3 separate regions of the Homo sapiens genome follow, and all the other regions are linked to region 2. Evidence: fine-mapped expression QTL. A gene starts in region 2. Each other region holds a variant in brackets. All regions are shown on one strand. Distances are from middle to middle. Region 1 overlaps TBC1D20 (TBC1 domain family member 20). Region 2 holds the start of TBC1D20 (TBC1 domain family member 20). Region 3 has its middle 16 kb from the start of TCF15.

What was found. PIP is the estimated chance that this variant, and not a neighbour inherited with it, causes the effect.
Region 1: its variant is fine-mapped to the expression of TBC1D20 in CD4 T cells (Kasela 2017, PIP 0.95).
Region 3: its variant is fine-mapped to the expression of TBC1D20 in monocytes (Quach 2016, PIP 0.95).

The regions. Positions count from the first base shown.
Region 1 is chr20:435,656-441,458 of GRCh38, reverse strand. It overlaps TBC1D20 (TBC1 domain family member 20), which reads left to right. Exons shown (of 8, transcript NM_144628.4): 6 at 1,070-1,211; 7 at 2,164-2,351; 8 at 2,618-5,803. The coding sequence ends at 2,873. Among named protein-coding and RNA genes, the nearest start is that of TBC1D20, 24 kb to the left of the region's middle. The variant G/A (reference allele first, on the strand shown) is at 3,036.
Region 2 is chr20:458,154-465,881 of GRCh38, reverse strand. TBC1D20 (TBC1 domain family member 20) reads left to right here and starts at 3,349. Exons shown (of 8, transcript NM_144628.4): 1 at 3,349-3,546. The coding sequence starts at 3,477. RefSeq lists silencers at 2,910-2,979, 3,260-3,749, 3,818-3,966.
Region 3 is chr20:622,547-630,274 of GRCh38, reverse strand. No RefSeq gene overlaps it. Among named protein-coding and RNA genes, the nearest start is that of TCF15, 16 kb to the right of the region's middle. RefSeq lists an enhancer at 7,489-7,728. The variant C/T (reference allele first, on the strand shown) is at 3,834.

The sequences.
Region 1 (5,803 bases), 23 kb after region 2:
TGTTCCAGTCACCAGCAATCTGGGTAATTCAGTTCTTGGAGCATTTTTGGGGACTGTGCTCTTTGGGGGACATAGCCCATCCCTTGAGTTTACATCTAGTGGGGAGAGGTGGATAAGGTATGTATGCCAAGGTAAGATGTTGAGGTTATTGCCACAAGAGAAACACAAAGTCCTGTGGGATCCAGTGGCGAGAAGGGGAAGGCCAACAATGGGTTGTTTTATTTCCCAAGTACCAAAGAGAAGAAATATTTTTTTGCAAATCCCATGTGATGTTTTGTTTCTTCTCTGTTTAGTTGGAAATGTGTTCTTGGCCAATGCCTCTTTTTTTAAAATTTTTTAAAAGGTAATGGCTATGCCTTCTTTTTTTTTGAGATGGAGTATTTTCTCTTGTTGCCCAGGCTGGAGTGCAATGGCATGATCTTGGCTCACTGCAACCTCTATCTTCCGGGTTCAAGCGATTCTTCTGCCTCAGCCTCAAGTAGCTGGGATTACAGGCATGCGCCACCACGCTCGGCTAATTTTGTATTTTTAGTAGAGACAGGGTTTCTCCATGTTGGTCAGGCTGGTCTCGAGCTCCCGATGTCAGGTGATCCGCCCGCTTTGGCCTCCCAAAGTGCTGAGATTATAGGCGTGACTCACCGTGTCTGGCAGCTACATCTTAAGATATTTCAGTTGTCTCATGTTAACAGAAAAATTAATGCAGTCATGTTTTCAGGCTTGGGAATATGTACCTGTGCCCCCCAGAAGGGTAAGACTTAGTCAGAAGGAGAATCATGGCGTAGTTCTCTGAAAACAACTGCTTCTCGTTCCTGTAGTTGACATTTGTTGGCCAGTAGGCGAGCACCCAGTGAGATAAAGCAGCCAGGACCCTGTTGTGGTGTTAGTGTTGTGGTACACCTTAAAGACTTTGTATTAAATATTTTGTAAGGAGAAGATGCTGAATTCCTAGGTAACTGAATTTTCCAGAAATCTTATTCCTAAATGCTTCCTTCTCACCAGCGCTATAAGGCCCAGAGAGAGGGAAGGGATGGCCCACAGGACCTGACACCTGCCTTTCCTTTGTTTCTAGTGCTGAGGTAGGGACCATCTTTGCCCTCAGCTGGCTCATCACCTGGTTTGGGCATGTCCTGTCTGACTTCAGGCACGTCGTGCGGTTATATGACTTCTTCCTGGCCTGCCACCCACTGATGCCGATTTACTTTGCAGCCGTGGTAGGTACAGGCCACGAGCCAGCAGCTGGGTTCACCATCACCCATCCCACTGTGGTCATTTTCCCTGAAGGGAAACCTGGGGATTATGGAAAGATGCAAAAGACAGCACTTCCCAGGCTGGTGTCCCTGGACACCATTCTGTGCAGTATTAATGGGGGTGTCACACACAAAAAATAGTAAGTTGGGAAATGCTGGGTATAAACAAAATCAGATTTTTTTTGCTGCATGACACTTCTGAACCTTTAAAATGCTAATCTGCATTGTGAATTGTCAGGGTTCCTGTTGACATTGTCTGGAATATATGTTCAGCTGATGAACACAATTAGGGAAATAGTAGCGTAAGCTGTCAACTCCAGATTTAAGAAAAGAAGAGATCTGGTGTCATGACAGACAAGGGAGGCGGCTTGCGGTGGAGGGTAGGGGCTTCAGTTAGTAGAAGGGTCTTGAGGGATGGGGTGGAGATGGGAATTCAGGGAAGTCCTTCAATGACCACTGGTCCCTTGAGCATCTGTGGATTTGTGGACCAACAGTCAGAAGGAAGATGCTTAAAGGGAGCAAGACTGTTCTTTCTACTGTTTTGAACCATTTCTTCTATGCTGGAGCTCCAGGAATCTCCCAATAATTCTCCTACTTTCTCCTAAAAGAATCTCCTTCATTTCTTTCAAGACTTAAAGGGACACCTGAGCAGCCCAGCATGCCCGAAGGACTTAGATTGTAACTGGTCAGCCTTTCATGTCATGTGGTGGAAGTTTGCAGGAAGGGCCAGAGAGTAGGAGTAGCACTGAGCGTATATATGTTATTACTTCCTTGATGGATACAAGAGTTTGCTCAACATTTGGGCTGAGTCCTGTCTGTTACCAGTTTAAATTCATCTGCAAGGATAATGGAGTGCAGGTGGCCCAGGCCCTGTGTGTCTGGCCTCTGACTGCAAGGCTTTACTACCTCCCCACAGATTGTGTTGTATCGCGAGCAGGAAGTCCTGGACTGTGACTGTGACATGGCCTCGGTCCACCACCTGTTGTCCCAGATCCCTCAGGACTTGCCCTATGAGACACTGATCAGCAGAGCAGGAGACCTTTTTGTTCAGTTTCCCCCATCCGAACTTGCTCGGGAGGCCGCTGCCCAACAGCAAGCTGAGAGGTGAGCAAGGCTGGGACACTGGTTGAATGGGGGTGGCTGTAAATGAGCAGAAGCGAGGGAAGGTTTGTGTCTGGTGGGATAGGGTTGGGGCATGTTTCCAGAGATCTGAGCTTAGGCCAGTGGAATCCCCACTGTAGACATATGGGTCTTTATCATAAAGAGCTTTCCCAGCAATGAAAGGCTCTGCCCGCAGCCTATGTGGTGTAGTTTTGCTTTCCTCCTCCTCTTTCATACCACTTCCTTCCTTCCGTCTCTTTCCCCTGCAGGACGGCAGCCTCTACTTTCAAAGACTTTGAGCTGGCATCAGCCCAGCAGAGGCCTGATATGGTGCTGCGGCAGCGGTTTCGGGGACTTCTGCGGCCTGAAGATCGAACAAAAGATGTCCTGACCAAGCCAAGGACCAACCGCTTTGTGAAATTGGCAGTGATGGGGCTGACAGTGGCACTTGGAGCGGCTGCACTGGCTGTGGTGAAAAGTGCCCTGGAATGGGCCCCTAAGTTTCAGCTGCAGCTGTTTCCCTGAAAGCCAGAGAAGACCTTCCTCTTACATCACATTAAGGTCTCACCCTTCCATGGAAGGATTGGGAGGGGTGGAATTTCCTTTATTAAAAGGGTTTCTGTCCAGAGTTTTTTATTCCTGCCACCCTGCCCTGCCCGTTTGTGTTTGCCTTTACTTCAGAGGCCA[G/A]TAGCAGAGCCTACCTGACACAGAGGGGACCTGGGGGCCTGGCACAGAATCTTATGCCTCTCCCAGTGGGCTTTTGGATGGGCTCTCTGCCACCTCCCTGGTGTTGGAGGAAGTGGGTTTCTGAAGCTTGCAGCTGCTTTTGCAACCTGCTGGGCCTGGGCTGCCCTAGTTACCGGGAACCTCCTAGTCACCCCATAGAAGGTGAACTGGAACATGGGATGCCCTCTTACTGCTCCTGCTTGCCTGCATCAGATGGACACAGAAGGAGGGGGCTGCTGCTGAAGGAGTCAGGCTTGGGATGGAGAGCAAGAGGCCAAAGGACTCGTCTGGGAGCATGATCGGCCCCTCTTACTAGCAGCTCCATCAGCTGATCAGAAATCAGAGACAGAAGGGAACTAGGTTACTCGTTAAATCCTACCTATTTTCAGCCTAGAAATCACATGGGCGTTTCCAGTCAAGTGGGAAGGAAGCTCATTTTTAGGGCCTAGACCTAGACTAGTTTTGCCTGCCTTTTTTTCCTCCCTGCTTTCTTCTACAAGCCACACAACATTGCTTATAAAAGGTACTTTTATTACTATTTTTAGAATATATACACCCCATATGTAAATTACCCTCACTTTTAAAGTAATAATAGTTCCTTCACGGAAAAAAAAATAGTTCTCATCAGAAGGATGAGCTTCTAAGATCCTGAATTTTACTTTCTACTTGATTAACATTTTCGCTTTAGCCAGAGTTGCTATTTGCAAACAGCTTTCCACTTCCAAAGTGCCACTTTCTGACCGGTTTTTCTTCCTGTTTTCCTCAAATCATCCTACTCCCAAATAGGCACCCACTCACTACCTTGGCGTCGTTTTTTGGGTCTGACTTGACTCGTCAACTGCTGGTCTCTCCCACCTGGTTGGAAATGTCGTTGGAAACTTGCAAAGACTCTCCAGACCTTAGGGAACAAGAGGCATCACTCAGTCCTTCTGGGACAGCTTCCCTGTAAGCAAAGCCAGGTTTGTTTTAGATTCACTCTGGCCTGAAAAAAAAAGTGCCTTTTGCTGCTTTAAAGAATTGGGGTATATGGTATGAAGCAGCCATGTACTTGTATTTTCCTGGTCTTTCCTGGGCACTCTTCTCTCTTGGCAGATGTTTTCTTAAAGTGAACACACCAGAAGCACTCTACCCCACCATATCCAGTCCTCTTTGCATGCCTGTTGTGTGCAGGGTGGAGGGTGTCCCACGTGCCAGAGCAGCTGGGAGCCCTGTCCGCTGAGTTACACTAAGCACTTTATTTTTATTTATTTTATTATTATTTTCTTTTTTCTGAGATGGAGTCTCACTCTGTTGCCCAGGCTGGAGTGCAGTGGTGCAGTCTCAGCTCACTGCAACCTCCGCCTCCCAAGTTCAGGCAATTCTCGCTGCCTCAGCCTCCCGAGTAGCTGGGACTACAGGCACCTGCTACCACGCCTGACTAATTTTTGTATTTTTAGTAGAGATGGGGTTTCGCCACGTTGGCCAGGCTGGTCTCGAACTCCTGACCTCAGGTGATCTGCCCGTCTCGTCCTCCCAAAGTGCTGGGATTACAGGTGTGAGCCACCACGCCCAGCCACCACTACGCACTTTAAAACCAAAAAAAGCTCAAAGGGATGGATCATTGTCCATGGCTCAGGAGCCCCACTGTGGGGTAAGTGTGATGTCGATGGATTAATTTAGACAGTGGTGTATTCATCAGGGCAAAGGAAATTCTTCCAGAGGTGATGATGCGGCAGATATTCCCAGTGCTCTCCCAAAGCAAGCTGGCCCTCTTGTCATCCTCTCAGTGGGCGGCACCAGCTGCCCCTCCTTCCACAAGTACTCAAGCCTGTTTGTAAATACTGAAGGAATTGATGGGGTTGAGGAAAGGAGGTGCATGTGACCAGGGTCCCAAGGCCACAGCTTTTCAGATCCTAGGAAGCAAGTGGCATTTGCTTGAGTTGTGGCCTCGGAAGGAGAATGTTTATCTGTTTTCTAACTTTGCTGACACCAGGATTCTCCCTGTCATTGAGAAGAAAGCATTATCTAATTACCTTCAGGTGGTTTACTTATTCTGTAAAGAATATGTGTAAATATTTTGTACAGAGCCCTGTATCAAATAAACAGCCATATGTGGTTACTAATCACCTCTTCTGTCATTCCGTCCTTGGCCACCGCTCAGTGGGAATGGTCTCTGATCTGGATGCTCCCACCTTCCATGTCAGGCCCAGAACTGTGCCATGGTCTGTGGACTCCTGGTCAGCCTTGACTGGCTAGGAGACCTTGGGCAGTACCTACAGTCTTGCTGTTTCTGTTTCATCTGCAAGAATTATGACCCACACACTCCAGCTGCAGCCCAGGGCACTGTGATATTTTATACGTGTGTAGATGTTTTTGTCCACAGTTCCTGGTTCATCACTCCCATAACCCTTTGTTATAATGTTGGGACACTGCAGGCCTCAGAAAACGGAATCTCTGTCTGTGACCTTCTCCTGCCCCATTTCACTTGCTCAACACCAGACTTTAATCTGACTGTAGCTCATAAGACCCTCATTCCAGAGAGGGTGCTGCCCCATACCCGGAAGGAGGAACGCTGCACAGAGAGGCCAAGAAGCATCTGGACAGACAGGCCTTGCTGGGTTTAGACCTTATGCTTTTTGTCCAGTTTCATCTCAACACAGCTGCCATGCTTCAGCCATGCCTATCCAATGACGTCTCCATAAAAGGCCCAGGAACACGGGAGCTTCTGAAGAGCTGAACATGTGGAGGGA
Region 2 (7,728 bases):
TGCCTGGCTAATTTTTGTATGTTTAGTAAAGACGGGGTTTCACCACTTTGGCCAAGCTGGTCTCGAACTCCTGGCCTCATGTAATCTGCCTGCCTCGGCCTCCCAAAGTGCTGGGATTACAGGTGTGAGCCACCACGTCCTGCCAATCTTTTTCTATAAAGGAGCAGATAGGCCGGGTGCGGTGGCTCATGCCTGTAATCCCAGGCACTTTGGGAGGCTGAGGCGGGCGGATCACCTGAGGTCGGGAGTTTGAGACCAGCCTGACCAACATGGCAAAACCCCGTCTCTACTAAAAATACAAAAAAATTAGCCAGGCATGGTGGCGGGCTAATCCCAGCTACTCGGGAGGCTGAGGCAGGAGAATCACGTGGACCTGGGAGGCGGAGGTTGCAGTGAGCTGCGATTGCGCCATTGCACTCCAGCCTGGGCAACAAGAGTGAAACTCCATCTCAAAAAAATACATACATACATACACACATAAAATAAATAAATACATAAAGGAGCAGATAATAAATATTTTAGGTTTTGTAGGCCATATCTCTGTTGCAACCACTGAACTCTACCGTTGCAGCATGAAAACAGCCATAGACAGTAGGTAAATGAATGAGCGTGACTCTGTTTCAGTAAAGGTTTATGGACACTGAGATTTAAATTCCATATAGTTTTAATGTGCTACAATTAAGTTGTGATTTTTCAACATTTATCAAGGTAAAAGCCATTCTTAGTTCATGAGCCGTGCAAAATCAGGCAGTAGAGTGGTTTTGGCTTGCAGGTGGGCAGACCATCTTTTTTGCTAACCGCCTGGTCTAAGGCAAGCATATTAGCAATGAATTGTGTACTTGCAGCACATGCAAAAATTTAAAATACTGATAAAATGAATCGTGGTATATTTCTAAGATGAAATTCTACTTAACAACAAAAACAAATGAACTATTGATTAATGCAACATGATTGCTTATAAAATAATTACGCTGAGTAAAAGAAGCCAGACAAAAAAGACTACATACTATATGATTCCGTCCATAAAAAATTCCAGAAAATGAAAACCAATCTATAGTGACAGGATGTAGATCAGTGGTTGTTTGCAAGTGGTTGGTGGGTAGAGGGGAGAAAGCAAGAGAAGGAAGGGATTTTAAAAAGTAAAATGTAGGACAACAGCAAGAAGAACAGGAGGGAAGAAATGGGAATTTATTGTAAGGTCTTTATATTATACATGAAGCGGGACATTTTTTGAAAGTAAATTCTGGCCCAAGCTTCACAACGACCACACAACTGTTTAGTCCTAGAGTTGTGGTGGTGGGAATGGGGTGGGGGTCACTGTTCCATCACTACCAAAAGCAAGAATCCAGCTGGCTGGATGACCAGCGCAGTAAACTGAGAAGGGAATAAATATCTCAAATTGCTTGAGCACGTTACTCTTAAACTGGGATGACTTAAATCTTCCTTCAGTGGGCACTAAGCATCTTTTAACCTCAATGATGATTTATTTCATTTTATTTATTTATTTTTTGAGATGGAGTCTCACTCCGTCTCTTAGGCTGGAGTGCAGTGGCGCAATCTTGGCTCACTGCAACCTCTGCCTCCCAGGTTCAAGCAATTCTCCTGCCTCAGCCTCCCAAGTAGCTGGGATTACAGGCAGGCACCACCATGCCCAGCTAATTTTTGTATTTTTAGTAGAGATGGGGTTTCACCATGTTGGTGAGGCTGGTCTTGAACTCCTGACCTCAAGTGATCTGCAGCCCTTCACCTCCCAAAGTGCTGGGATTACAGGCATGAGCCTCACAGATGATTTAGAACAAAGACTAGAAATGTTTTCAAACTTCTAGTATTAATAATTTTGCATTAAGGCATCTGTGTAAATGTGATACTTTAAATTCCTATAATGTTCAAGATAATTTCAAGAGCTTGGCACTGTGATTCACGCCTGTAATCCCAGAGCTTTGGGAGGCGAAGGCAGTTTGAGACCGGCCTGGGCAACATAGGGAGATTCCCCACCCCCTCTATAAAAACTAAAAAAACTAGCCAGGCATGGTAGTGTGTACCTACAGTCTCAGCTACTCGGGAGGCTGCAACAGGAGGCTAGCTTGAGCCCAGGAGCTTGAGGCTGCAGTGAGCTATGATCGCTATTGCACTCCAGTCTGGGTGATAGAGTGAGACTCTGTCTCAAAAAAAAAAAAAAGATAATTTTGAGAATTCTAACAGATTATTCTTGTACTAATTACAAATATGTATTTGAATAGATTTAGACTTTTGATTTTAAGATGAAATCTCGTTTGTATTGACACATTTGAAAGCACTCATGACTCAGTATTCTTATAAATGTATTACATTTACAAGAATTACACAAGGACTTGAAAGGCTTTGTTAGAAACCTGTGATACTTAGAAAAACGAATTGAATTTATAAATGCAGTTTCAAATGTTCAAAGGATTTTAATTAGCTTAGTTTATTAATGGGACCAAATAACTGATATAATTTACTAGATTTATGAATAGAACTGTAAAACTTGGCTGTGCGCGGTGGCTCACGCCTGTAATCCCAGCACTTTGAGAGGCTGAGGCGGGCGGATCACGAGGTCAGGAGTTTCATGGGCTGGAGGTCTCAGGATAATAAAGAACTGTTGTGGTTGGGGGTGGGAGGTGGAAGAGAGTCATCAAGCAACTGGAATTATGGGAACTTCAGCATGAAGACCTAGCACTAGAAATTCGGGAGGCCACAATCACAATATCAGGGATATAACCAAGGGAATGGATGTCTAATTGGAAAGAAAGGAATATCACTGAAGACGAGAAGGAAATCAGACCTGATAAGCCAGAGCGCTGCTTTAGATGAGTGGCCACTATTTCGCACAACTTAAGGGGGCACGGTTCACGTGAACGTCTACGTAAATGGCGCTCCCAGGCCTTGTGCAGTGCATAACCTGCGGACCCGTATGACATGAACCTGCTAGATCCCCAAGTACCCAAGAACTGATGACAGGAGTTCGTGTGGGGAGACGAGACAGGAGGTAAAAAAATAATCCTTGGTAAGCAAAAATTGGTCATAATTGTGGAGTATTTACTATATGCTTGGTGATGTTCTAAACACTCTCAATAACCTTGTGAGTTCAATATTTTTATTATCATCAATACTATTTTACAGATGAAAGAAGCAAAGGAAACGACAGCTGGTCTCGAGCACACTCGCTCAAGAGCGCCACACTCTACACCGTAGAGTCTACAGCGCAGACGAAGCCAACTCCTCAGAGCGCTCACCGCGCTCTTTCCGCAGCCTCCCCCGCCGCCGGCCGGGCGTAGCGCAGGGTCACGTGCCGGCGCGGGGCGGGGCCAGCGGGGCGCCTGCGCGCCTGCGCGCCGCTGGCCGACGGAGGGGAGCCTGCCGATGCCGAGCGGGTGCTACGTCCCGCGGTCGGAGCCGCGTCTTCTCCCGGCTCCGCCACCAGCCGGGGCTCGGGTGGGGGCCCGGGGCCCCGGGGCATGGCCCTCCGGAGTGCGCAGGGCGACGGCCCCACCTCCGGCCACTGGGACGGCGGCGCGGAGAAGGCAGGTACGGAAGCCGACCGGGGCGCCGGGAGCGGCCTGCGAGGGCGGCCCGGGGGGCAGGGGCAGCTGGCGGAGGCGGCGCCGGAGGGGCGCGGGCTGGGGACCCGGGGCTGCTGCGGGGTTCCGGGCGGCGAGAGGAACAGGCTGAGGGCCCAGGGCACGTCTGATGAGGAGAGGGCCTGGAACTGGGGGGGCTCGGGCGGGTGCCGAGCTGACCCGAGGGAGCCTGGCGGCAGAGTCGCGTCCCCAGGCAGAAGAGCGGGCGGCGGCTTCGCGCCCCGGCTTTCTTCCATCTGGAGAGGACTGGGACTCCTCGAGCGCGGAGGCCAGGCCCACCCCGTCCCAGGCGTCCGCCACGTCCGCAGGCTCCCGGAGCCGCCTCCCCGAGGGGTATCAGCTCTCCCGAACTGCATTCACCGTCGCCGGCTTGATTGACGCGCTGCCCGCGTACCGCCGATGTAATTACCACACAGTTCTTCCTTTAAGGTGCACAGTTCAGTGATTCTTAGAAAATTCACAAAGTTGTGCAGCCATCGCCGCTGTCTGATTCCAAAACGAAACCCTTACCCATTAATAGGCACTCCGCGTTCCCCGGTATTCACGACGCCTGGCAACCACGAATCGACTTTCTGTCTGTCTTCTGCCACCTATTTTAATGTTATTCAATTGTGTAAAAGCGGCCGGGCACCATGGCTCGCGCCTGTAATCCCAGCGCTTTGGGAGGCCATGGTTGGAGGATCGATTGAGGCCAGGATTTCGAGATCAGGCTGGGAAACACAGCGAGGCCTCATCTCTACAAAAAGTTTTTAAAAGTTAGTCGGGTGTGGAGGCTCGAGCCTGTGATCCCAACGACTCTGGAGGCTGAGGCAGGAGGATCGCTTGAGCCCAGGACTTAGAGGCTACTCTATGATTGCGCCACTGCACTCCGGCCTGGGTGACAGATGGAGACCCTATCTCAATAATAATAATAAGTAAATAATTGTATAAAAAGCGCTTCTATTTTTATACTCTTTTAGTTTGGACAATTTCTGTGAAATCATGTTTTTGTTGCACATGATGTTCTCAAATGTTTTTCATTCAATAAATACATGACAGTTAAAATTATGAATGTACACCGTGAACCAAGTTAAATAATCTTTTTTCCTTGAGGAAGACTAAGGTGACTTTCCCTATTTCCAGTCCTCTGATGGATGGTGCCCGTAACAGAGCCAAACACGTTATTAATACAACCCACATATTTTGAGGAAGCTCCTGGTATCTATATTTTATTTTATATTTTATTTGGGCTCATTTTCTGTTTTTCCCTTTTTCTTATGTTCTGATACTGAATGGAAGTGGAGCTCTGAACCCTTTGGCACCGTAACCCTTTAATTACTGGTGTTTGTGTGATGTCTGTCCTCATGGCATAACAGTCAATGCCCTAGGCAGCATGGGTCTTGTGACCTGTTGGCAGTGCAGCTGTGTATCTGTTGCAAGACTTTACCCCCTCTAGTTTCCTTGATTTTGCTTCTCTGGATGAATGGGACAAATTTAAAGATGAGGTTTTTTGTTTTTGTTATTGTTTTGTTTTTTAATCATATCAGAGTATTGTTGGCAAAGTTACTAATGCTAGAATCCCTCTTTTGTAGCGTTTATAGTCAGATTGGTTTACTTACTAGACTGTTTTTTTCCATTGTAGTGAAACATTCTTTCTTGGTACCTGCTTTTTCCAGGTAGTTAACAGAATCTTTGCTAATTTGGATACTGTTTTGTAGAAACTACTAATGAAGACCTCCAGAAACAGAGGCTAGTTTGTTTTATTTTGTGTTTAATAGAACTCTTACCCAGACTGAAATAAGGTTTTCCTCTCCTGCTGTGGTCTTCTGGTACAGACGTGGAGTTAAAGCATTTTTTTTTTTTTTTTTTGAGAGATGGGATCTTGCCCTGTCACCCGGGTTGGAGTGCAGTGTCACAGTCAAAGCTCACTGTCATCTCCCAACTCCTGGACTTAAGTGCTCCTCCCACCTCAGCCTCCTGAGTAGCTGGGACTACAGGCATAAATTTTCAAGTTAATTTCCAATGTCAATATCAGTAGTTGTGGGTGGGTGTAGGGGTATGTCTGTCTCCCTCCCTCCACACAAAACGGCCCCCCCCTTCCATTGTTTTAAGACTAGCATTTCTTAATTTGAGCTTAATTTCAGTTTAAAGACTGTAAAGCCTTTATGATAATGCAGGCTTAAACCAAATAATCAGTATGGAATTTTGTACGCTCACACGAGATTCCATTATATAAATTAGTTGATCCAAGTTAGTATTTGTTTTGGTGATATGAAAAAATATATGAAAAAACTTTTAGAGGAGGCATGGATAGTGGTCATCTTTAGTTGTTATCGTCCCTTCCCAGTGTATTAAGTGCCCTAATCCAGGTGATTTTGGACATGCCTATTACTCTGAGGGGGCAGAAATCTTTACCTGGATTCTGTAGCCAGAGTTGGGAGAAGTTTAAGCCAATAGTGGGTTGTGTCATCTTTATCTGAACCATTAAGAACCACAGTTCAGATGAAGTGTCCCATTGTTAAAATTAGCATTTTAGGGAGTTGAGTCTGATCTCCCTCCCTGACTACAAAACCCTGTTGCAGTTGTTGCTATACCTATTGCTGTGGTGCCCCTCAAATAAAGTCTGCTTTGCCCTCTTTATAAATAAATAAATAAATAAATAAAAATAAGCGTTCTAATGAAGAGTAGGCCAAAGTCATACCTATCTTCCTTTGTTGAATGAATTACTTTTCAGGCATCAGGGATTTATTTATAGCAGTCTTATATTTTGCAGCCAGCTGTAGGACGGTCATTCGTTCCATCATGGTTATGATAGCCAAGACCTCTACTATAAAGGAATTTGGAAGGTATCAGCTTTGGAATAATAGTGCACTATCTTGTAAGTGGGGCAATAAAGAAATTGGAGAAGAAAGGATTGAGGGAGATTAGAATGACATACATTCTACCTCTAGATGAAATGTGGGCTTTTATTCCAAGCCAGATACAGCGTTCTCAAGTCCAGAAATGTGTGTCCTGCTCTAAATCTATAAAGTTTATCTCGAAATACAATAGATAATAGGCATTTATTTTAATCTTTTCCTGAACATCCCAAGAATAGCTCTATGATGTTTCTCTTTCGGAAATAAACAGGATGTCTGTGAATTTGTCTTTCAGTGGAGACGCTGCTAACTCCCTCCCTGTGTCGTCTAGCAGTTGATCTCACTCTGTAATTCATACATCTTTAGCTCACTTGAATTTTCTGTTTCCTCTTCCCTTTTTATGTCACAGTGAGAGCCTATACATTTAGTTGGAATAAAGTATTTGTCAGAGTGGCACACGTGGGAGTGCTTTCTCCATCTGCCACTGACATTTAATCACTAGGCTGTGGGGTTGAGGAGGGTGGTGTTGGGGCCTGAAAAAAACAGCAGCCGAAATCCACGTTGGGACAGCATCCTCCTCTGGGAAACACCGGTAGTGTTAGAAACAGGCCAAAGAGTCTGCAGATCTGTTTAGAGAGTTCTGCAGTGAGCATCACCTTAACAGTATGGGAAAAATAATGTCATTTACTGCAAGCCAGTTTTTTCCAGAGGAACAATAACTAAACTAAATCACTTACTATATTCTGCACGTATTTGTTGCGTTCCCACAGAGTGCCAAAAATTTTGAAATAGTAAGTAAATTTTGAAATGCAGGATTAAAAGTAGAATTGGAGGCCAGGTATGGTGGCTCAACGCCTGTAATCCCAGCACTTTGGGAGGTCGAGGTGGGTGGATCACTAGAGCCCAGGAGTTTGAGATCAGCCTGGGCAACACTTTTTTTCTCTACAAAATATATATACGCAAAAATTAGCTGGGCCAGTGGAGCTTGTCTGTGGTCCCAGCTACCTGGGAGGCTAAGGCAGGAGGATCACTTGAGCCCAGAAGGTTGAGGCTGCAGTGAGCCATGATCGTGCCACTATTCTCCAGCCTGGGTGACAGAGTAAGACCCTGTCTCTAAAAAAAAAAAAAAAATTGGAACAGAGTCTTAAGAGAAATGAGTTATGGGAGGTATGATTTGAGGATTTGAGTTCAGAATTAAGTAACATTCTGGCAAATGGTTTGCCAAAACCTCATGGAAATTCAGTTGACTGCATAGTGGTTTTTTTCCCCAAGATACAAGATTTCCTTTCTCC
Region 3 (7,728 bases), 160 kb before region 2:
CAAAGGCTCAAAGTAGGAACAAGTAGGTTTCTGGGATCAGGTGTGGCCTGGAGTGACTGGAGCACCGTGAGAAACGTAGGGAAATGAGATTAGAGAAGCAGCAAGCCCAGCTAGGGAAGGACCTTAGGTGCCAGACAGTTGTTATAATTAAGCCCCGGAGAGTCCAGTTAAATATTTCCTTCTTCTTCTTTCCTCTCCTCCTTCTCCTTCTTTTTTCTATCAAGTACAGAGAGCTGAGTTAATCCCATTTCTCAAGCATAGCTCATTATCATCACACGCTTCACTTTTATTTTTTCCTCAAGCCCTACTCCTTTTCCCCTTACTCCCAACCATTGTGGGCATCCACTTGTGTGGAACTGACACGTGATGGTGAAGGCAGCGTGTGGTGATGTGAAGCACAAGGATTCTGGAGCTGGACTGCCTGGATTCAAAGCTGGGTCCACATCTTACCAGCTGTGTGACTCTGTGCAAGTTACTTGACCTTTCTGTGCTTCTGTTACTTAATCTCCATAAAATACTGATAAAACTGATACTATCTACGTCACAGGACAGTTATGAAGATTAAATGAGTTGTCACTTGAAAAACACTTAGAATAATATAGGTATCTATGTGATCAATAAATCTCAGCCAGGCACAGTGGCTCACACTTTAATCCCAGTGCTCTGAGAGGCCAAGACAGGAGGATTGCTTTAGGCCAGGAGTTCGAGACCAGCCTGGGCAACATAGTGAGACCCTGTGTCTATATAAACATTTAAAACTTAGCTGGGCATGGTGGTGCACGCCTGTAGTCGCAGCTACTAGGAAGGCTGATGGGGAACATCACTTGAGCCCGGGAGTTCCAGGCTGCAGTGAGCTGTGATCACGCCACTGCACTCCAGCCTCCTGGGTGACAGAGCAAGACCCATCAGGGCCGGGAAACAGGGGGATAGGGAAGTGACGGAGCCCCCGTGACTAGGGACACCCGAATGCTGCGGCTGGCAAAGCCCTTCAGAAGAGTGGCTGTCAAACTTATCCAAACATTTCTCTTCACCCTTGTCCTTCACCGTCCTCCTCCTCTGCCTCCCACCCCACTTCTTTAAAGCTGTGGTACCAGTGGGGCAGGGCTGCACCAGGGTTGGCGAATGGGCTCTGATAGTCTCTTGTGCTACAAATCCCAGCTCCCTCCTTTGCTAGTCCTCTGACAAGTGACTTCACCTCTCTTTGCCTCAGTTTACCCCTCTTTATAAAGAGCATAGTAACAGTGCTACTTCTGAGGGTTAATGAGTGGCCAAAATGAGGAAATGCATCTGCCAGCTGACAGCATGCCTATCACGTAGTGAGCGCTCAATAAATGGTGGCTATTCTTTTTAAACATAATCTGCCATAGAGACCAATCTAAGACACAAGGGAAACAAGGCCAGCTCTGCTGAAAGTTGGGGTCTTCCGATATTTTGTGGCGGCCACTGAGGCACCTCTCAAAGGCTAAACCTAAAATCACCCCGAAATTATCTAAAGTTTTCACTGTGCAGATGGGAAAACTGAAGCCCAAAGAGAGGAAGCTAATTCTCAGCCATTCCTGATCCAACAATTTTTCTTGCGAACCTACTGTGTGCCAGGCCCTGTGCAAAGCATCAGGGATGGAGGGGACTGGGGAAAAAAACCCACTACTCTGCCTGCCTTCATGGGGCTTACCCTCTAGCTCCAGACAGGAAAAGATAACTGAATGTTGACCACACGGAGTAGATGCCAGAAGGAAAAACAGAGGGAGCACCATCAAAAGCCAGCTTGGGAGGCACATGTGGGGACAGAGAACCCATTAGCTGGAGCGGGGGGTTGGTGGGGTTACATTGTTAGAGCTGAGACCTCCAAGAACAAGAAGGTGCCATGTGAAAGAGGGAAGAGGGCAAGTGGATGTTACCAGCGCTGTTGTTTGTAATAGCAAAAAATAAAAACCATCCAAATGTTCATCAACATGGACTTCAGATACTATATCGTGGTATTAACATATTCATATAAGGGAAGAATGCCCAGCAGTGCCAACGAATGGCAGCTGCCTGCCTCAATGCAGATGGGTCGCCAATGCACACTGTGCAAGGAAAAGAGCATGCGAGGTAGGATGCACAGAATCCATACAATATATATGCACTTCTATACATTTTTAAGAATGACGCTTGAACTCGAGAAGCGGAGGTTGCAGTGAGCCGAGATCGCGCCATTGCACCCCAGCCTGAGCAACAAGAGCAAAACTCCATCTCAAAAAGAAAAAATTCTTTAAAAAAGAAGGAAATATAGTCCTATGTATTGGGTAAGGATTTATTATATGTAGTAAAAGGTAAAACATTCATGGAAATAATAAACATCAGGATTGTGGCTTCTAAGAGGGTGGATGGGGATGGTGGGGAGGGATACCAGGGACCCTCTGTATTAGCAATCGATCCTGCATTAGAAATCATCCCAAAACATAATGTTTTCAAAGTACTAACAGTCATTTTTTATATCTCACAGTTTCTGAAGGCAGGAATATGGGCATGGTTTAGCTGGGTGGTTCTGGTCCTCAGGAAGCTAAATTCAGCTGTCAGCTGGGCCTGCAGTCATCTGAAGGCCTATCGGGTTGGGGAGTTGGAGGGTAAGCTGGAGAATTTGCTGCCAAGCCAAAGGGGGTTCATCTGGGTGGCTAGCAAATTTGTGATGGTTGTTGATCAGGGACTGGGAAGAGGGGAGAGGGCCTCAGTTCCTCTCCATGTGGGCCCGCCCATGCATCTTGGGTTCTATCACAACATGGTGGCTGGATTCCAAAAGTGAGCATGGAGAGATAGACGGACAGATGGACAATTAAGCAGAAGTTGTATCCCTTTTGTGACCCATCCTCATTCACCACATCCTCTTCATTAGACATGAGTTGCTGAGCTCAGCCCATACTCAAAGGTAAGGAGAATGTAACTCTACTTTTTGAAGAGAGGAGTGTCCAAGAATTTGTGGACATATTTAAAACCATTCACTCTCAATTCTTTTTGAAAAGTTTTAGGCCAGGCGCAGTGGCTCATGCCTGTAATCCCAGCATTTTGGGAGGCCGGGGCAGGCAGATCACGAGGTCAGGAGTTTGAGACCAGCCTGACCAACTTGGTGAAATCCCATCTCTACTAAAAATACAAAAATTAGCCAGGTGTGGTGGCGTATCCCTGTAATCCCAGCTACTCAGGAGGCTGAGGCAGAAGAATCACTTGAATCTGGGAGGCGGAGGTTGCAGTGAGCTGAGATCACGCTGCTGCACCCCAGCCTGGGCAACAGAGCGAGACTTCATCTCAAAAAAGAAAAGAAAAGTATTATTCCTTAAACTGAGCAGTGAGTACATGGGATTTTATTCTGTTATTCTCTGTACTAGTTTGAGTATTAAGTAACAGAGGGAGACGGGCAGTGGGGAGGAGTGTTTCAGGCAGAATGAAGGAGAGTGGTGATGGTGAGTGGCAATGAAGTGAGGACAGTGGCTGATGAGGGCACAGCAGTGGGCAGTGCCCAACCAACTTGTTGGCTGAGGTTGCATCATGGACACAGTCAGGACCCTGGGCATCTTGGAAGCAGCAGAGGCTCTCTGCCCACTCTGAGCCCCCACACCTGGCGTGATCCTGGCCTGGAGGAGGTGGTCCCAGTGTTAGTGGCAATTCCTTCTCTGAACACAGCTCCTGGGTGCCTGCTCTTCTGAAGTGCCATCCACCCCTCTCCCCTGACATCTGGCTCTTTTCCCCAGGAGCATCCTTCCACAGATATACCATTTGTCTATAAACATATCCACAACCACACACACTGGTATCTCCCCCCAAATGGAAGCCTATTATGCATCCTTTTCAATACCCTT[C/T]TTATAGCCTTTTCGACATACTTTGGGACTCTTACATGTTAGTACATAGCAAGCTCTGCCACTCTTTTTTATGGCTTTACAGTACTCCCTCATGTGGATGTGCTACAATTTATTTAACCAACCCCCTATTCACACACATTAATTTTGTTGGCCTTTGTTATTACTTTTTAGATTTTAAATGTAGAGCGTTGAGTTTAATAAGACCTCAATTCATGGCAGATTATCATAACTTACCCCTGTGCACCCTCCTTTGTTTGGTTTTGTTTCTCTCTCTCTAGTTATTCCTTTTTATCCCATTTCCCCTTCATATTTTCTGCACCTCCATAGATTCTGATGGGTTCTTTGTGCATTCTGTGGTGTATAAGTCTTCACGTAGAACATAACAGACTTGTATGTGTGGCTTCACCTGTGACTTCTGATTGCTGCCTAGAGCTCTTTGCACCTACCATGTATTCCTTTCTACCACCCCAGTAATGGATACCTGAGTGGCCTCTAACTCTCTGTTGCCACAACAATATGGCCATATCCTCTATGGGCTGATAAGAGAATTTTGTCTGGACATATAGCCAGGAGTATAATTGCTGGGTCATCGGATATATCTATTCTGGTTATCTTTTGCACTACAATAAACTACCCTCAACTTAGAGGCTTAAAGCAACCACTTTGTTCATTACTTTGTGAGTCAGGAATTTAGGAAGGACTCAGCTGGGTGGCTCCTTTCTGAACCTTGTGGTATCAACTGAAACAGCTACGGCTGGAGGTTCCCTTTCAAGATGGCATCTTCACTCATGTCTACAGCCTTGATGTTCCTGGCCTCTCTCTCCATCACATGGTGTCTCATCCTAGAGGACTTCTTTCCATTGTTCGCGGGACTTCCTCACAGAATGGCAGTCTTGGGGTGGCTGGAGTTCTTCATGGCAGCTGGCTTCCCCTCAAGTAATTGTTCCAAGAAAGAGGAAGTAGAAGCTGCCAATCTTTTAAAGCCTAGGCCTGGAAACTGACACATCATCACTTCCACCATAGTTGTTTGTCAAAGCAGTCAGAGGCCAGCCCAGATTCAGAGAGCAGATACATAGACCTACATCTAGATGGGAGGAATGTCAAATAATTGGTGGCCATAATTTATGCACCCAATGTACAGATTTAACTGGACAGATTGCTCTCCAGATGGCAGCTCCAGTCCACACACCCCCAGCGCTATCTCCACATCTTCACCCATACTTGGCTCTGTCCAGCCTCTTCAGATCCCCCTTCACACTGCAGTAAACATTATTGTAGAAATGCTCTTATTTCTTTCCCCAGTGCACGCTATACTAAGTTGTATATTCATTCATTGTGTGTCTCCTCTCCAGAAAATAAGCACCAGGCAGAGGGACTTGGTTGGATTTATTTGCTGCAAATCCTTAGCACCTGAACAGCACCTGGCATTTGGTAGGAGCTCTTACATTTATCTTAAATATTTGTGGAACTCAATCACCCTCCACAGAGATTGTAGCAATTTGCATCCCACCAGCAATGTCTAAGTCTCAGTAACTTGAATTGACCCAAACACATGGTTCATATGCTTTAAGTTCATGCTTCCCCCTGCTCAAGAACCTTCAAGGACTTCCTATTACCTTGCTTGGTGCATCTCAAACTGGAACCCACGACCTTTTAATACTAGGAGCAAGAGTTTCTCCATTTCTTATGGAAAGAAGCCCATGGATGTTTCAATGTTAAGTTTTTATCTTATCCATTTTTTATAAATGATTAGCATGGACTCTCATTTAACTAAAAAATCACTAAGAGATAGAGATACCTCACAAACAATGAGTTCACTGTTCGGGGGCTTCTAATGGTATAATGAAACTCGTCACAACTTAGGGCCAATAAACAACACGACTGATAGCTTGAACCAAGTTCTTTCTCCTAGCTGAGCCTCAGTTTACCCATTGGTAGAATGAAAATAGCATTATCTCATATGGTGTGTTGGGTACTTTTTAACTCATTCAGTCCTCAATGCAACTAGAAGAGATGGGTACTATTATTATTCTCTTTTTCAGTTGAGGGAACTGAGGCATAGGACAATTAAATAACATGTCTAAGTTTCCACATCTGGGGAGTGATGGGGCCTGGGTTTGAACTCCTGCACACAAATAGTCCTCCTCCCACCCCACCCCCAAGGCTGGCTTCAAGGCTAGATATTTATTCTTTGTTTGTTTGTTTGTTTTAAATTTTTTTAGAGACAAGGTCTTGCCCTGTTGCCCAGGCTGAAGTGGAATGGTACAACCACAGCTCACTGCAGCCTTGAATTTCTGGGCTCAAGCAATCCTCCCACTTTAGCCTCCCAAGTAGCTGGGACTACAGGTGCACACTACCACACCCAGCTAATTTTTAAAAAATTATTTAGTAGAGATGGTTTCACCATCTTGCCCAGGCTGGTCTCGAACTCCTGGATTCAAGCTATCCTCCTACCTTGGCCTCCCAAATTGCTGGGATTATAGACATGAGCCACTGTGCCTGGCTAGATGTCGACTCTTGTGGCATATTTTAGGGAAGTGGTGTGCTCACAAGTATAGCCTTTCTGGGGGTAGGGGGAGGAGGTGGCCTGTGAGTGGGAGATAGTCTCTGACCAGATTGAAATATACACAAAAGGCACAGGGTTGAAATCGTGCTGTGCCAAGTCCATGGTCCCCTCTGGGGTATGAACTGAGACTCTCGGTCTCCCAAATGGCTTATCAATAACATCTGATTCTTTATCATTATGGTAATAGTTACCATTAATAACAGCTAATATCTATTGCACGTTCATTGGGTACTAAGACTTTTCTCTCCATTTTTGAATCCCTCAATAGCCCTAGGAAGTTAGTGATTCACATTAACCCCATTTTACAGGTGAAGACACAGAGCTCAGCGGCAGAGTTGGGATTTGCTCCCTGTGCCTCCACCCACTAATGCGTCCTTGAAGCATCTCTGTTTACAGAGGAATTTCATGCATTATCTCACTCGATTTCACAGCCACAGCTTGAAGTCAACGCTCCTATCCTTCCTATTTTGCTAACAAGGAAATCAAGGTGCAGTGCACAGCTCTTTGCAACAAATCTGTCTGCTCTGCCTTCCCCATCAAATCCAGGATGTCACACAGCTGGAAGGTACCTGATTTATAGCTCAGGAAGGAGCACGTCAGGGCCTCTGGGGCACTGGGCAGGGTTCTCAGGCAGTTGCCCAGAGATCCTGTTTACTGGCAGGGCCGGAGACACACAAGACCAGGAAGGAGGGAGGCCCCGGAGACGACCCATGTTTGCATCTTCAAAGGCTTGCCCTGCACTCTCCCATCCTCAGGATTCCCCAGCTGGGCAGTGAGTTGTCACTTCCAAGAAATGTCCTCCAGCCCTGGCCACACTGGCTCAACCCAGTCACTCCAATCCTGCCCTTTCCTCACCCACTCTGCTTCCCCACATACATAGTCCTAGGGAAGGCAACGAACCCCTTCTGGGCTCCTACAGCTCATTCATTCATTCATTCAGCAAACCACTGTGAGTGTTGGGTACTCTTACAGGCACTGGGGAGACATTAAAGAATAACCAAGATTCCTGCCCTGTGGTATTGACATTCTAGGGTGGACGGGGTGGGCGGGGAAACACAATAAGTAAAGTGCATAGTGTGTTAGGTAGTTCTAAGGGCCATGGCGAGAGGAAAATAGAGCAAGTCAAGGGGTTTGGGAGTAGGAAGAGAGGGCCTCACTGAGAAGATGACATCTGAGCAGGGACATGAACAAGATGAGGGACTGAACCAAGCAACACCTGGAGAAAGAATGTTCCAGGCAATGGAGCACTGTCCTTGGCAAGCGCAAAGGCCCTGAGACAGGGCGTATGTGGTGTTCAAGGAGTAGCAAGGAGGTGGTGTGGCTGGAGAA